2 separate regions of the Homo sapiens genome follow, and region 1 is linked to region 2. The links come from fine-mapping of genetic effects on gene expression. A gene starts in region 2. The other region holds a variant in brackets. All regions are shown on one strand. Distances are from middle to middle.

What was found. PIP is the estimated chance that this variant, and not a neighbour inherited with it, causes the effect.
Region 1: its variant is the best candidate, but not a certain one, in a credible set for the expression of CNGA4 in whole blood (INTERVAL, PIP 0.86).

What each region holds. Positions count from the first base shown.
Region 1 is chr11:6,056,528-6,060,926 of GRCh38, forward strand. It overlaps the pseudogene OR52L2P. Among named protein-coding and RNA genes, the nearest start is that of OR56A1, 28 kb to the left of the region's middle. The variant G/A (reference allele first, on the strand shown) is at 1,880.
Region 2 is chr11:6,236,344-6,240,685 of GRCh38, forward strand. CNGA4 (cyclic nucleotide gated channel subunit alpha 4) reads left to right here and starts at 2,746. Exons shown (of 6, transcript NM_001037329.4): 1 at 2,746-2,925; 2 at 3,041-3,142; 3 at 3,341-3,447; 4 at 3,723-4,342. The coding sequence starts at 2,864.

The DNA.
Region 1 (4,399 bases), 180 kb before region 2:
GGCTCTGAGAAAACTCACAGCGAGGACCCAACCATTTAATTCTCATCTACAAACAAATAAGAGTAAAAATCTACAAATAATTGAGAAAAAACTAGTATCGTGAAGAAAGGACCAGGCTGAACAAGCGGAGAAACTCATCCCTTAAAGAAAAGAGTAAATGCAAGAAAAAAGTCATTTATAATATGCATAATAAATATTTTAGAAATGTCCTAATTTATGCATTTTGATGTGGCAGAAAAGTAAAGGAATCTAAGTCATCCTAAAAGACACGAAAAGGTTCATCTAAAGGGTTAACACTAGCATTTAGCTGAATGGCTGTACCATGTAAATGTGCTGCCAGCACAAACTTAGAGGTTTGGAAGACACTCTAAACCTAAAACCAAGCTGAGGGTGGGACTTCCCATTGCCATTCCAGAGAATGTTGCATAGTCTATCACTGGGCAATGGCAGGAAAGATGACACATCCAGAGCTGTCATCCATTTCTACTGTCCTCAAGTCTCTCTGACACAGGAGTAGGAAAATGTTGGAATCAGGAGCAAAAGAAAGAATGGAAAAACTATTCACAAATTCAGGTATCCAGATACATCCCAATAAGCTGTGAAGCCAGGTGCCTCTGGATATTCTTTGCTGTGATATGTGACACTAGAAGGACTGCTCGCTGTGAAAATTACCCCATCCATATAATCTGCACCAGCCATGAGTTCCTGGCTATGTCCTGGCAGGTGCCTCTGAAGGAAACAGTGAGAATATATTCAGGTCAATCCTTTAGTGTAAACACCCTGAGCACTCACTGGTGGATCTTCTGGGTCTTCACCCCATAGACAAGAGGATTGAGTGCAGGTGGCACAAGGCGATACAGTATGGCCAGAAGAACATGGACGTGATGGGGTACATGATGACCAAAGCGGTGAGTGAGGAAGGAGAACATTCCCGGGATATAGAAGACCAGGATGACACAAACATGAGAGCCACATGTGCTAAACGCCTTAAGTCGGGCCTCATTTCCTGGTACCTTCAGCACTGCCTGGAGAATGTGGGCATAGGAAACACCAATGGCCAGGACATCCAGCCCAACCACAAGCAAGGCCACAGTCAGCCCATAAGCTCGATTGACTGTGGTTTCTGAGCAGGCAAGTTTCACAACAGCCATATGTTCACAATAGGCATGGCCTATGATGGTGGCTTGGCAGAAGATAAGTTTTCGCAACAGAATGAGGAAGGGGATGAGGAGTAGTAATCCCCGCACCAGCACCACCATTCCGATGTGCCCTATGACCCCTGGATGCAGGATCGTGGAATGGTGCAAGGGGTGACAAATGGCTACATAGCGATCCAGAGCCATGGCCACAAGTACCCCTGACTCCATGGAGGAGAATGCATGGGTGAAGAACATCTGGATCAGGCAGACAGTGTAACCAATCTCTTGGGCACGAACCAGGAGCACTGCAAGGGCTTTGGGTGCAGTGGAGGAGGCCACAACCAGGTCGATGGCAGCTAGCATGGACAGGAAGAGGTACATAGGTTGGTGCAAGGATGGGTCCATCCAGATGATGAAGAGAATGGTAACATTGCCCACTAGAGCAAGGAGGTAAAGGATGCCCAGGGGCAGTGCGATCCAGTGCTGGCTTTCCTCTAAACCCGGAATTCCTACCAGGAAAAAAGAAGGCTGGGGTAGCCTCCAGCTGGAATTGCTAAGCGCCATTATCAATGACTTGAGGAGGAAAGAGAAAAAAGAATCCAAATTCATGATTTCTGCATTTCTGGTACATTATCACATAGTCCAGATCACATTGTCTACCATCTTCATGAGAAGAATAAAGTGACTAAAACTGCAACCAAAGGGAATAAAGTTAGATACAAGAAAGAAAATCTTTGGTG[G/A]AGATAAATTTTTTTACAGGTGAGACATCCACATGTCTGAATTAGAATAGGTCTAGTTTTTTTAGAGATAAGAGTAAACATACACTGTTTTGGGAGAGATGCATAAGCTTTAACCATTCAGTTGCTTATGTTTTGAAGCTGCCAACTTCAAAGGGTTCTCTTTATTAGCCTCTTGGCGTTACTGAACACAGTAAATTAAACTGTTGTTTTTGAAATTAGCCTCCCTCAGTTTCCGTGAAGTGGCACTCTAGAGTTGTTTCTCCTATAGCCTCAGTCCCACCATTTTCTCCATCTCATTATGTTGTTGATTCCAGGGATCCATCCTCTCCTCTTTTCCCTATTCAGTACATTATCTCTGAATTGACCTCATCCACTTTCATAGTTTTATCTATCTACTTTTATTTCTTTCAAATCTGTGTTTCTAAGTCAAATATCTTTCTGAAACACAAATCATTCTTTCCATTTGCTTCCTGAATAGCTATACTATAGCCTCAACATATTCAAAACTAAATTAATTCATCTATCCTTCTTAAATCTGTCCTACCTACCTTTGGCAATATTTTTATGAATTACATTACTATCCATCTACCAAACCCAATCTAGAAACTCGGAAACTATCTTTACTTATTCTTATCTCTCATCCCTTTTCCCCATTCGCCAATTCCTGTTAACTGCATTTTTAACACATAGCTGTTATATCCACTCCTGTTTTCAACCCCCGATGTCAAACATCCAACTTCTCTCACCTGTACTGTTTCATTACATCTCTCTGCCTTTGCTGTAAACATCTTCCCAATTCACTCTCAACCTTAAAGTCAGGTTTTTCCTAAAATGCAGATGTCGTTATGTCGTGCCTATGGCTAAAATCCTTCAGTGAATCTATTGCATGGAATAAAATCATACTCTTAAGACTGCATTAAAGGTTTTCAAGGGTTATCTATTGTGTATTACTTTGGTCTTACAGTTAACATATTTCTACATGTATGTTTTACTAAACCATTCCAACATTCTTGGAGTTATATGACTAAACTCTCCTATTTTACATATGCCTTTTGTGTAGTCTTTCTTCCACTTCCTTTATCTGAATTGGTCTTCCTCACTCTTGAAAATTTAGAGTCTACTCTCTTCTGCTGCTCAAAAGGACTCATTGGCTGTGTTAGGTCAAGAGTGATTATGTCACGAGCACTGTATGTTATGATCCTTCTTTGTTCATCCATAACTTTCTTGCTTATCTCCATCATAGAAATCCTGTCAGCATCTTAATGGCTTGTTTTAAAGAACTGTATCTCATTACATGTCATGATTATAAGCTAGCATGGATGCTTCACAATGCAGTGTGATAAATACAAGCTTTGCGGGCAAAGTTTGTTAAAATTCTGTCCATTTCATATTCTAGGAATAAAATCTTGCTAGGCTTCTAAAACTCTCTAAGTCTTAATTTCCTTATTTCATATTAGAATAAATAATATTAATCTTAAATACTAAAAATTTTAACTAATGTATGTAAAGTCTTGATATATAGGTTACCTTATAAAGTATAGTCTATAAATTATAGTTCTTTTTTAATGTTACTAATAAAAGATGGCTATGAGCTCTTAGTCATCTTTTATTAAGTTGGTACAAAAGTAATTGTGATTTTTGCCGTTGAAAGTAATGGCAAATATTAATAGCAATATTATTAATGTTTAAAAAGATAACTATAATTACCTTTCCTTTCTTCTTTGTCTTCATGACTCTGCTTCTCTGATTCAAACTTTTGATATGTTTACCTGTCATCATGATGTTATAGCAATTCAGTGTCTCTGACACCCCACGTTAACATGAACTATTGAATAAACAGCTGTCTGTTTAACCTTCTCCATGGGATTCACCCCTCAAGTATTAAAATAAGAAACTTGCAACTGGTTACATTTGTGTCTGTATGTTTATCTTAAAAGACAGATGTAGTCTGAAACAACTATATTTTTCTTTGTTGGGGTGGTGGTTCGTGTACATGTACATGTGAAGATTTTTAAAAGTCAAGAATGACTCAGTTCTTGTGGATTATGCATCTATAGATCACTCAGTGTGTCTTTTTTACAAATCAATAATGTTTGGGAACTATCATATTGCCCCCAAACTCTCAATATAACAACTATAAGTTCTGAAATTCTAGGTGGGCATATGTCTCCCAGCCTTTGTCTTTCTTCAAGAGTCAACTTAAAATAATGATGACATTTTTATTGAGACTTCCAGGGGAATCTTATACTCTTGCAAAAAAAAAAAAAAAAATCACCTTTCAGTGCTTAATATTCCACATACTGAGGAAGTTAATTCTCTTTCTTAGCTACTCCCCTTCTGTTACAACCATCAGCTCATTTCTCATTTTATAGCTGAGAAGTTGAAGAACAGGTATGTGTTTGTGGAAGGCACCCGTGGCTTTAATAGAAACAGTGTGCATAAAGCAGTGAGACTGAAACCGTACTACAGAAGGTGAAGCAGAGGGGCAGAGACACGAACCTGAATATAATCTGCTTCTTT
Region 2 (4,342 bases):
ATAAAGAATTTTATACATAGATTGATAGTTATACAGTAACTTTGCAAAAGACCAAACAAGCTGATAAGGCCCAAACTAGAGTAGCAAAAATGCAGAGAAGTGGACATGTGGATTTTTAGAAGGTAGATCACCATGGTTTGATGATTGGGTGGATATAAGAGGAAAATAAGAGGAAGAATTAAAAACTAATGCTTAGTTTATATAAATTCAAAAACAGGTAAAACTAAACTGTGATATTAGAATTCAGGATAGTGATTATTCTTGGAAAAACATTGACTGAAAGGGGCAGAGTGGGGCTCCTGAGGCACTGGTGATGTTCTGTTTCTTGATCTGAGTGCTTGGTTATATGGGTGTGTTCACTTTGTGAAAATGTATTAAGCTATATACTTAAGGATTGTACACCTTTCTCTGTGTTTGTTTGTTCTGGTTACTATGCTATGTGACAAACCAACCCAAACTTAGTGTCATAAAAACAATAGCCATTTTATTATGTGCACAAATTCTGGGAATTTGGACGAGATGCAACAGGAATGGCTTGTCTCTATTCCATGATGTCTGGGGCCTTATTTGTAAAGCTTGAACATCTAGAGGTGGTTTGAGGCTGGTGGCTGGAAGCATCTGGAGGCTTCTTCAGTCACACATCTAATTCCTGGGCTGGGATAATGAAAAAGCTGAACTCATTGGGCAAACTGTCAAACAGAACTTCTCACAATGTGATGGGTAGGTTCCAAGAGGGAACATTCTGAGAGGGAGCTACCAGACAACACGCATTCCAAGAGAACCAGAGGGAAGCTGCATGGCCTTTTATGATCTAGCCTTAGAAGTCACACAACATCACTCCTGCTATACAAACTATCACAAGGGAGTGGTGTCGAAGAATTTGTGACCATTTTTTTTAACTGCCACAACATTATACAGTAAATAGTAATAAATGCTTGTCATAGGTTTTTTTGCTGAAAGGGCATAGATAGGAATTCTAGAAGAAAAAGTGGAGGAAGATAATGAGCTTAGTTATAGACCCAATGGGTTGAAGGTGACCGCGGGATACCCAAGTAGGAACATCCAGTGAGCAGTTAGTCATATAGATAACTGAAACTCAGGGAGAGTTCTCGGGAGCCACTATATGAGAAAGGAAGTCCTGTGGGTGACTGACGTCAATCAGACAGAGTTAGGAGGATGGCAAAAGTAGAAAGCCTAGAACAGAATCCAAGAAAAAAAAAAAACACCATCATAGAAGGAATAGACAGAGGAGCTTATGAAAGACACTAAAAAGAAACAGCAAACCAAGACATTATGGCATTACAAAGGATTTTATTCATTTTGTTGCATTACTTTGAATGTTGTCTTTTTATTTTAACAAGCGTAATACTTTGCAAAAAGAAATTAAGAAGCCATGGGAAAAGAGAGTTTTTCAAAATTTAATTAGGGACCACAGGTTTTTCTTCTAAAACACACTCCAAAAACACAAACCTGATTTTATCACTGAACTGTGAAAAACTCTTCACAGGTTCTCTATTGCCGTTGGGTAAAATCCAAGCTTTATAACATGGCTGACAGAACTCCTCCTGAGCTGGCCTCTGTCTATCATTCAACCTCATCTCTCACCACTACCCGCTAGGCCCTCTAAAATAAGCCAATTGATATTTGCCCAGTCACCCACGCTTTTTGATATCTCTATGCCTTTGCCCACTCTGTGCATTCTGCCTCTAGTGCTCTTCACCCTCCCATCTCTGTACCCAACTCCTATTCATCCTGCAGAACCCAGGCTCTGTAGGGCCACTTCATGTGTACTATAATAGCCTTCCGTGTATCCAGCTAACAGAGTACTCATCAGCAGCCTGGCAATGACTGCTGCTGTTTAGTTACCTCATGTGTAATTACCTGCTGGCCTGACTATTTCACCTAGCAGACTGTGAGCTTCTGGAGAAGGGGGAGCGTGTCTTATTCATCTCCAATTCCTAGTATTTAGCACAATATTGGCCTGGCACACAGAACACCTGCCTATGGGTGTTCTGATTTTGATTTGTTGACTGAGAAAGATGATAGCAGTGAAAGGAACATCAGGTTGAGGGAGAAATTGTAGGGTTTTTGTTTGTTTTGATATAGGAGATATTGAAGCAGGTTCACAAAAAGAGAAAAGTTGAAAGATTGGGGACCATAAAACACATGGAATGGTTGGTAGGATCAGGCACTAGAAGTCACAAGAAGGATATGAGGACAAAAGCACCATAGGATGGCCCCTATCACACTACCTATGAGAATGGTGTGATGGGGGAAGGCGTATGTGGAGGTAGATAAGGGTAGGAAGTAGGTTACAAAAATAGAGCTCACTTCTCATGTGAGAGGCATCTCTTTGTCCCTGGAGAATAGTTTAGCACCTGACATAGATAAGCCATTCAGTAATAGTTGTTAAATAAATAAATAGTGAGGCCCAAATAGAATTTGCAAAGATAAAACAGAGTGTTTGATCCTACACTAAAACTGAGGTCTTCTGACCCAGAGGACACCTATGTAGCTCAGTTGCTGTGGAAAGAGGGGAGGAGGAAAACAGAGACAAGACTCAGGCTTCCCTCTGAGGCATGCACCCCCACCTTCTCCAGGGATCTCATTAGAGGTGTTTAGCTGGGCAGGTGTAAGCCCAGGCCCTGGGAGACAGGGCAGAGTGCTAGAGCTAGACTGTCTCCACCCCTTCAGTAGCGCTAGCTCTGGTTGTGTTGCTAAGAGCCCCAAAGACAAAGAAGTCACAGCAGAAGCCCAACAGCAGCCTCCTTCAGGCAGTCAGGCACTAGTGCCCAACTCCAGAAGTCCCCTACAGGCAGAGAGGGTGTGGACATCTCACACCCCAGCACCAGACCACAGAACCATGAGCCAGGACACCAAAGTGAAGACAACAGAGTCCAGTCCCCCAGCCCCATCCAAGGCCAGGTGAGAAGTCCTGGTCCCTTGTGTGGGATCTCTCCTCATTCCTCTTGGTGCCCCAGTCACAACTACAGCTTTGAATGCCTGGTGAATAAATGAAGCAAGACTTTCTTTCTTACAGGAAGTTGCTGCCTGTCCTGGACCCATCTGGGGATTACTACTACTGGTGGCTGAACACAATGGTCTTCCCAGTCATGTATAACCTCATCATCCTCGTGTGCAGGTATGGCAGCGGTGCTAAGGGAGGGGCTGGAAGCCAAAAAGAGGACTAAAGAGAGGTCAAGGAGAAGGGCAGACCCTTGGTGGGGCAGGAGGAGCAATTCCCATGGGAGGGCCTGAGGCAGAGGGTTAAGGGCCCTGGGGAGACGCCTCGCACACAGAGGGTGCCCTTAATTCAATCATGCTTAACCCTGCCCTGCAGAGCCTGCTTCCCCGACTTGCAGCACGGTTATCTGGTGGCCTGGTTGGTGCTGGACTACACGAGTGACCTGCTATACCTACTAGACATGGTGGTGCGCTTCCACACAGGTCAGTGGGCTTCTAGGAATGACCCTTTGTCCCACATTCCCTTCCTAAAGATAGCCACTTAAGAAGTAACAAGAAAGGCACCCCCACCGTGGTAGCACCTTCGCGTGCCTCTATGCCTGACAGCATCCCAGTGCTCACCCCGGAAAGCCGGGAGCAGAGTTATGCCTGGCTCCACTCTGTCCTTCAGACAGTCTCCCTGGCCTGCCCTGGGCAGCTCATGCTCAGCCCAAGCTTGACTACAGCAGGTCCGCTTCCTACCGGCTCCCTCTCCCCAGGATTCTTGGAACAGGGCATCCTGGTGGTGGACAAGGGTAGGATCTCGAGTCGCTACGTTCGCACCTGGAGTTTCTTCTTGGACCTGGCTTCCCTGATGCCCACAGATGTGGTCTACGTGCGGCTGGGCCCGCACACACCCACCCTGAGGCTGAACCGCTTTCTCCGCGCGCCCCGCCTCTTCGAGGCCTTCGACCGCACAGAGACCCGCACAGCTTACCCAAATGCCTTTCGCATTGCCAAGCTGATGCTTTACATTTTTGTCGTCATCCATTGGAACAGCTGCCTATACTTTGCCCTATCCCGGTACCTGGGCTTCGGGCGTGACGCATGGGTGTACCCGGACCCCGCGCAGCCTGGCTTTGAGCGCCTGCGGCGCCAGTACCTCTATAGCTTTTACTTCTCCACGCTGATACTGACTACAGTGGGCGATACACCGCCGCCAGCCAGGGAAGAAGAGTACCTCTTCATGGTGGGCGACTTCCTGCTGGCCGTCATGGGTTTCGCCACCATCATGGGTAGCATGAGCTCTGTCATCTACAACATGAACACTGCAGATGCGGCTTTCTACCCAGATCATGCACTGGTGAAGAAGTACATGAAGCTGCAGCACGTCAACCGC